2 linked regions of the Homo sapiens genome follow. The protein of the gene in region 2 purifies or fractionates together with the protein of the main gene of each other region. This does not show direct contact. Each region holds a gene or a part of one and is shown on either strand. Other genes may lie near its edges.

Region 1 (3,652 bases), 1.3 Mb from region 2:
AGCTAATTTTTTGTATTTTTAGTACAGACAGGTTTTCACTATGTTGACCAGGCTGGTCTTGAACTCCTGACCTCATGATCCGCCTGCCTTGGCCTCCCAAAGTGTTGAGATTACAGGCATGAGCCACTGCACCCAGCCTATTTTTTATTTTTTTGAGATGAGGTCTTGCTGTATAACTCGGGCTGGAGTGCAGTGATCTTGGCTTGCTGCAACTTCTACCTCCAGGGCTCAAGTGATCCTCCCACCTCAGCCTCTTGAGTAGCTGGGACTACAATGCATACACCACTATGCCCAACTAATTTTTTTTTCCTCCTCTAGAGACAGGGTTTTGCCATGTTGCCTACCTAGACTGGTCTCGAACTCCTGAACTCAAGCTATTTACCCACCTCGGCCTCCCAAAGTGCTGGGATTACAGGTGTGAGCCACCACACCCAGACCCTGGCTAAGATTATTTGTAAGAAAGCTTACATGGTACCAATTCTAACAAAGTAACTTCTCCTTTTACTCTACTCTCAAGGGAAACAGTTTTTCCAAATTCTCCACAATCTCTCCAGTTTGCTGAAGGTAGGATGAAGGTGGCGGCTGACAGTGACAAGAATTTAAACACAGCAAGGTCATGGAATACATTCCATTAATTAAGGCGGAGAGGGAAGCAATCAACATTCACTCCCCTAAATCAACAGTGGAATTAATTCCCTGAAGTGCTGCCTAGAAGAGTTAAATGTCCATGGCAAAGTCCTTGGGAAAGGTTTCAAGCCTCAGTCCAAGGGTCCCTTCCCTTCATCCACATTCTTAAAAGATCTACCCCTGAGTAAACTTTATTGAAGCCCCTGGCCTAGATGGGCTAAACATTCTTCCTAAGTGCTCCTGGAACACATCATCCATCTCTCTCTACCATGAAAATTCTCCATTCAAAAATCCATCTATCTCTACCACCGAAATTCTCCATCTACAAGTCCCATCTCTCTCTATCACAGAAATTCTCCATTTACAAGTCCTTCTCCCTCACCAGGCCATGACTTCCTGAGGGCAAGGACCCATCTTTCATCTTTTCTTTCTTCCTTAGGGCATGGCACAGAGTGGACTCTTACAAGAAACTCCAGGCCTAGAAAATCACAAACTCAGCTTGGTTCTGGTTTCTACAGCTACCTGGACTCAAAGACTTGCACCGCTCTCTGTGTAAATACTAGAAATGTTACAAATCTTTTTGCTTTTCTTTAAAAAAAAAAAAAAGTGTTTCTTCCCAATTCTTTAAAATAGAAATTTCAAAATGTAAATACTTTTTCTGTTTACTTTAAATCATTTGATTTTTTTAAACTTAATTTTAAAAATGGCCCGCACACAGCGTGGGAATGTCGGGGCAACCGTGAAACCGCACTCTGCCGGACCCTCTGGCTCTTCCCGTCGAACATACAGAGAAGGCTCTCTTAGATCTGTACCTCCCTCGCTGCATGCTGCCAGAAGATCACTACCCTCTCCATAAAAATCTACCTGGCAAATAGAGGCTGGAAGTCGTACAGAAATAATCATCAAGCCTGACAGTTCGGATGATTCTGAGGCCCAAATCCCTGCCTCCCAGGGTAACGTCAGGGCCAACTCTGGGGGTAGTACTGCTTTGACTGCTAAAATGATGCGGGGCCAGCATGTTGCTTGCTGAACTGGCTCCTTTATGAGAGAGATACATCATCAGAAATCAGGCGGCCCAATCTATGCCACTACTGGACATTAACATACTGTGGGTGACAGGAGAAAAGAGCAGGTGCCTGCAGCAATTTCCAGGTAACCCCATGTCTAACCTCAGCTAATCACAAGGCAGCACCAGGCCTCCCAGTAAGGGGAGGGGGAGTGGAGGTCAGAGGATCCAAAATCTGATGAGCAGAATAAATGTGTGACTTAAGAAAATAAAATTAGTCGGCCAGGCGCGATGGCTCACGCCTGTAATCCCAGCACTTTGGGAGGCCGAGGTGGGTAGATCACAGGGTCAGGAGATCGAGACCATCCTGGCCGACATTGTGAAACCTAGTCTCTACTAAAAATACAAAAATTAGCTGGGCGTGGTGGCATGCGCCTGTATTCCCAGCTACTCAGGAGGCTGAGGACGAGAATTGCTTGAACCTGGGAAGCGGGGGTTGCAGTGAGCCGAGATCGTGCCACTGCCCTCCAGCCTGGGCCACAGAGCAAGACTCTGTCTCAAAAAAAAAAGAAAAGAAAATTAGTCATTATCTAATATTCATGACCTATAACAACAGATGGATACATAACTGGTAAATGAATGAATGAAGATTATTTAATATTAATTTTCTATCTGTTACTGGAGGATTCTATAGCACAGGGCATTCGCAATCCCCTTTTATCTTATTATGAGAATAAACAAGAAGTTGGCAGAGACTGGAGAAATTCATCCCAACTGGTTTTTAGGACAGAAAGAGCTATGTTTCTGTAAGGCTGCCCTGCTATAAAGGTCAAGAATCTTCATTATAAGTTACCCAGGTCTACTACATACTTTTAACTCAATCCAGAAAAACAACAAGACATGACAGAGTGACCTGCAGGACTGAGGGCTGAACACCAGTTTGACTCACTTTAAAACATTCACAGCACTGTTTCAACTGAAGAAATTTGGTAGGTATCACGTATCATGTAAGATTCCTTGCAAAAGTTCCTCAGGGCACTTTCCCACCACATCAGAGACAGAATGGATTGTAAATGATAAAGTCATTATAAAATGGGAACACACCTCAACCACTTTCCTCCCAATACAGTGTGCTCTGGCCCAGGAGATTAGTCATTCAAACTCCAGGACATCATGTACAAATAGGTCAAAGTATAAAAAGAAAAAAACAAAACCTCCAGGAAACAGTCAGAAAACGCCCAAGACACCACCTTAGTCATAGCAAACTGTGTTTCAGCACCTGAATGAATTCTTACTCTATTTTTTAAATCACACCTTTCTGTGAATCCAAGAATGTTAAGCTTTTAAAGGCCAACCAGAATTGCCGGCACTAATTGGAGAGCAACACAGCTTTTCAGGCAGGATGTCTGATCCAAATTGACTCCCAAAGTCCAAACTTAAGACATCAGAATCAGTGTGCATCACCCATCATCATGGTCCAGAATGTTAGACGATAAAGGGCAAGAGAAGCTATCATTAAAAGTCTGAATATGTTACTTTTCAGGCTGTCTCTTTTCTGAATCTTAAGGATTTGTAAGTTGTGCAAGTTTTTCTAAAGATGAGCTGTTCAAAGTAAGTGCATAGTTTCTTATCTTCCAGAGGAAAGGTTTGTGGCTTAAACATGATCTCAGTACTATAGGGAAATAAAAACATTGTGGGGTAAAAAAAAAAAAAAAAAAAAAAAAAAAAAAGGCTGTGTATCCTATTTTCTGATTTCCATTCATTTACTTCTTTTTTTGTTTGTTTTTTGAGACTGAGTCTTGCTCTGTTGCCCAGGCTAGAGTGGAGTAGCAGGATCTCAGCTTCCTGCAACCTCCACCTTCCAGGTTCAAGTGATTCTCCTGCCTCAGCCTCCCGAGTAGCTGGCGTGCACCACCACGCCTCACTAATTTTTGTATGTTTAACAGAGACGGAGTTTCATCATCTTGGCCAGGCTAGTCTCGAACTCCTGACTTCAGGTGATCTGCCCGCCTCAGCCTC
Region 2 (3,752 bases):
GCTGGTTTCGAACTCCTGACCTCAAGTCATCCGTCCACCTCGGCCTCCCACAGTGCTGGGATTACTGGTATGAGCTACCACACCTTGCCCGAAAACGTTTTCAAAATAATAAAATGGGCTGGGCAAGTGGCTCACGCCTGCAATTAGAGGCCTGGAGACATTAAGTAAACCACCCAAGGTCACACAGTAAGGAAGGGGCAGATCTCAGAGTCGCCTGGCTGCAAAGCTGGTGTCCCTTCCCCACTGTGCCTTAACTGCCGCCTTACAGCTGGGTTGGAGGATGCCTCCCTGGTCTAGGGTCATTATTACATTTTCTTTTACAAAGTATGTTTCTGATAAACGGAACTGTTTATTTTCCACCGATGGTCTTATCCTTTGTCCATCTCTTTCTGACGGCAACAGAAAACTTCACCTTCCAGAGGAGCGCCTCTGCCTGGCTGTCCCACCGTCTGGGAAGTAAGGAGCGCCTCTGCCCAGCCCCCGCACCGTCTGGGAAGTGAGGAGCGCCTCTGGACGGCCCCCGCACCGTCTGGGAAGTGAGGAGCGCTTCTGGACGGCTCCCAGCAACCCCCCAGGTGTGAAGTGACAGCCCTGTGTGTGATCTTTCTGCCCTCCCCAAGTTTGCATTTTCGACAATAAAATTTACTTTTAAATTAAAAGATTTATACTGGGGAAGATTTAAAAAAAAAAAAAGAAAGAAAAGAAAACTCACCTTCCAAAAACAACCACTGGGAGTCCGCTTTGTGCAGAGGTTGGACAAGCTTCTGTGCAGGTAGGGGCGCTGCTGCTCCCCCTACCACCCACGCATCCTCCTCCCTGTCTGCATTCCCGTCGTCGTAGCCAGAGGAGTTCAGAGCCTCTACAGAGAGCACAACTTCTCCAGCTGGAACAAACTCCCCTTAAAGGAATCTATTTAGGAAGATTATTTCAATGTACATTCATTCCTCCAAAATATGCTTAGATGGACTTAAATAATCAGAAAGCTGTGTGTGTATGTGTTTCCCGTTTTCTTGGCCCACAAAGAACCCCTTGAGAGGTCCCTGGGCAGTGAGCCTGTTTATAGACACCCTTCTCCCTTCCTTGGTGTCGCAGACATCGCAGTCCCTCTGAGGGGCTGACCTGCCCCCCACCTTCTGGAAGCTGGGAGGTTGGAAGAGGGGACGCATGCCATGGACCCAGCACACAGCTGGGAACTCGAGGCACACCTAAGCCTTCCCTTGTGCTGTGCGGAGTCCACACTTCCTTCCCCACTGGAGTCTCAAAACCTCCCCTCACTCAACAGGGTGGTGCTGCTCAAAGCTCTGGGCACACATTAGGGCTGGGGAGGGGGTGGTGGAGAGGGGGCTCCAGCCTGCCCAACCACCAGGCAACGGGGCACCTGCCCCTCTCTCAGCTGGGTCTGGACCCGCCTCCCAGGCTCAGGCTGCAATGCCTTTCTCTTTCTCTTTGCAATTCCGTTGGGTCCTGCCCAGGACAGATAAAGACAGAGCAGCCTGTCTTTATTGGAGGTTCCTCTGCCAGCGGGAAGGGTCCGGGGAAAACCAGAGCCAGAGCCAGAGCCAGAGAAACATGAAGCACCCCGGGGCCTCCCACACCAATGCCTGAGCAGGAATGGGGAGGGGCCATGACTCATAAGGCCCTGGGAGGTCACTTTAAGGAGGGCTGTCCAACTGCAAGGACGCTGTAAGCAGGAAGTGAAACCACAGAGCTTCAAAAAAAGAGCGGGACAGGGACAAGCGTATCTAAGAGGCTGAACATGAATCCACAGATCAGGTACCGCTGCCCACTCTGCCTGCTGGGCCCCTCCTGCCCCTTCCTGCCTGGTGGTCCTGCTGGGCCTCAACCCTGGCCTCCCCCCGCCCCTGCCCCAGCCCTGGGCTCCCTCCCCTCTGGCTCCCCTGCCACACGAATCCCAGTCAGGCTCTTTGTCCTGCTGTGTGGTCACCCCACTGCTGCTTCTGAATGGGCTGCCTCCCCTACCTGCACCAGCCCAGGCCCCGTGCTGAGACTCTCCCTTAAAGTCATGCCCGGACTGGTGCTCCCCGCCCTGGGAGGGTGCTCCCTCTGTGTGCTTCCTGCCACTCCTGAGCTCAGAAACTGGGAGAATTGAACCAAAGGGTAATTGGAGCAATCAGGCATTTTTGTTCTCAGTGTTTTGATGAAATTTCTGTAAGAATTACTTTGCTTAAATACAAAGTCTTAGGAGAGGGTGCGGGGGTAGGAATGGTCTCTGAAGCACATGATAAATCGTGTCATCCAAGGATGACTCCATGGTGAGCAGATGTCCCCAGACAGGTTCCACTCCAAGGTCACTCTTCATCTTTTAGAACATGACCAGTGGTTGAGCGTGGTGGCTCACACTTGTAATCCCAACACTTTGGGAGGCCAAGGCGGGCGGATCATGAGGTCGGGAGTTTGAGACCAACCTGGCCCATATGGTGAAACCCCGTCTCTACTAAAAAACATACAAAAATTAGCCAGGCATGGTGGCGCATCTCTAGTCCCAGATACTCAGGAGGTTTAGGCAGGAGAATTGCTTGAACCTGGGAGGTGGAGGTTGCAGTGAGCTGAGATCATGCCACTGCACTCCAGCCTGGGCGACAGAGTGAGACTTCATCAAAAAAAAAAAGAAAGAACATGATCAGTAACATGGAATGTGAGAATGTGGGAAAAAAGTGCAATGATGAGGAGAAATGCTCTGATTTTAAAATTTAGTGAAAAGAGAGCCCAGTCCCCAACAGCTTTCTCCTACAGGATCCGTGATGCAGAGGCTGGACAGGGCTGGCCTGGAAAGGGGCCCCTGCTCCATCCGTCCCCAGCTCTGTGGCCTCGGCAGGTTACCCCGCCTCTCTGTGCCTCTGGCATCTCCTCTGTAAGATGGGAATGGCCCCTGCAGGCCTAGGGTAGCCTCACGTGAGCTCACACCCGCTCAGCACTTAGAAGAGTGGCCTGGGCCTCAGAATTCAGTTCTACCATGATTTTAAAATAATGTTAACACGCAGAGTGAAACATCAGGAAGGAATTGAGCTGAAAGGTTAAAAGCTATTTTTTAGGGGTGAAGGGTTTTATTCTCTTTTGCATTCTCCTAATGGGTTGGGGAGTGGGTTGGCAGAAATACTAGGAGGGTGGGGAATGTACCCCTGGAAAGGCCAGAGTTGGACCCGAGCTGGGAGAGATCACCCCAGCCCGCCTGCCAGCATCCCCTCCTCTTCCTCTCCCCTCAGTCTTCCTGCCTGGGAAGGCAGCAGAAATTCTCAGGGCTGTGGAGGGGTCGGGGAGGCCCAGGGCCATCCTGGGAGCTGTGTTCAGTGGACATGAGCCCCGAGGACTCCCGGGAGGGCTCCCTGCATGGGCCGGTTTCTCTCTTGTGCCTTCAGAAATCCGATGGAGCGGATGTATCGAGACACATTCTACGACAACTTTGAAAACGAACCCATCCTCTATGGTCGGAGCTACACTTGGCTGTGCTATGAAGTGAAAATAAAGAGGGGCCGCTCAAATCTCCTTTGGGACACAGGGGTCTTTCGAGGCCAGGTACCACCCAAACTTCAATCGAATCACAGGCAGTGTTGCAGGAATTAGAGGACTGGAGAGACTGATATGGGTGAGACAGGAGGATTTATTTAGGTGCACTGGTTCAGCAGACTCACATCCAAAAAGGCTGAGCCCTTAACAAAGACAGACTGAGGTATTTATAAGCAAACTTACAGAAGCAGAACAAAGGCGATTAATCAAACAGTGACAGGTCACAT

The links. The genes of interacting proteins can lie anywhere in the genome.
Region 1: the proteins of APOBEC3B (region 2) and TNRC6B purify together in Homo sapiens (affinity purification with mass spectrometry, with the first as the bait; one study listed by BioGRID). This does not show direct contact.

What each region holds. Positions count from the first base shown.
Region 1 is NC_000022.11:40,257,783-40,261,434, reverse strand, and holds part of TNRC6B (trinucleotide repeat-containing gene 6B protein), read right to left. Parts: intron 2,394-3,652; exon of another isoform or gene 1,067-2,393; intron 1-1,066.
Region 2 is NC_000022.11:38,980,698-38,984,449, forward strand, and holds the start of APOBEC3B (DNA dC->dU-editing enzyme APOBEC-3B), read left to right. Parts: upstream 1-1,649; 5' UTR 1,650-1,756; coding exon 1,757-1,773; intron 1,774-3,377; coding exon 3,378-3,534; intron 3,535-3,752.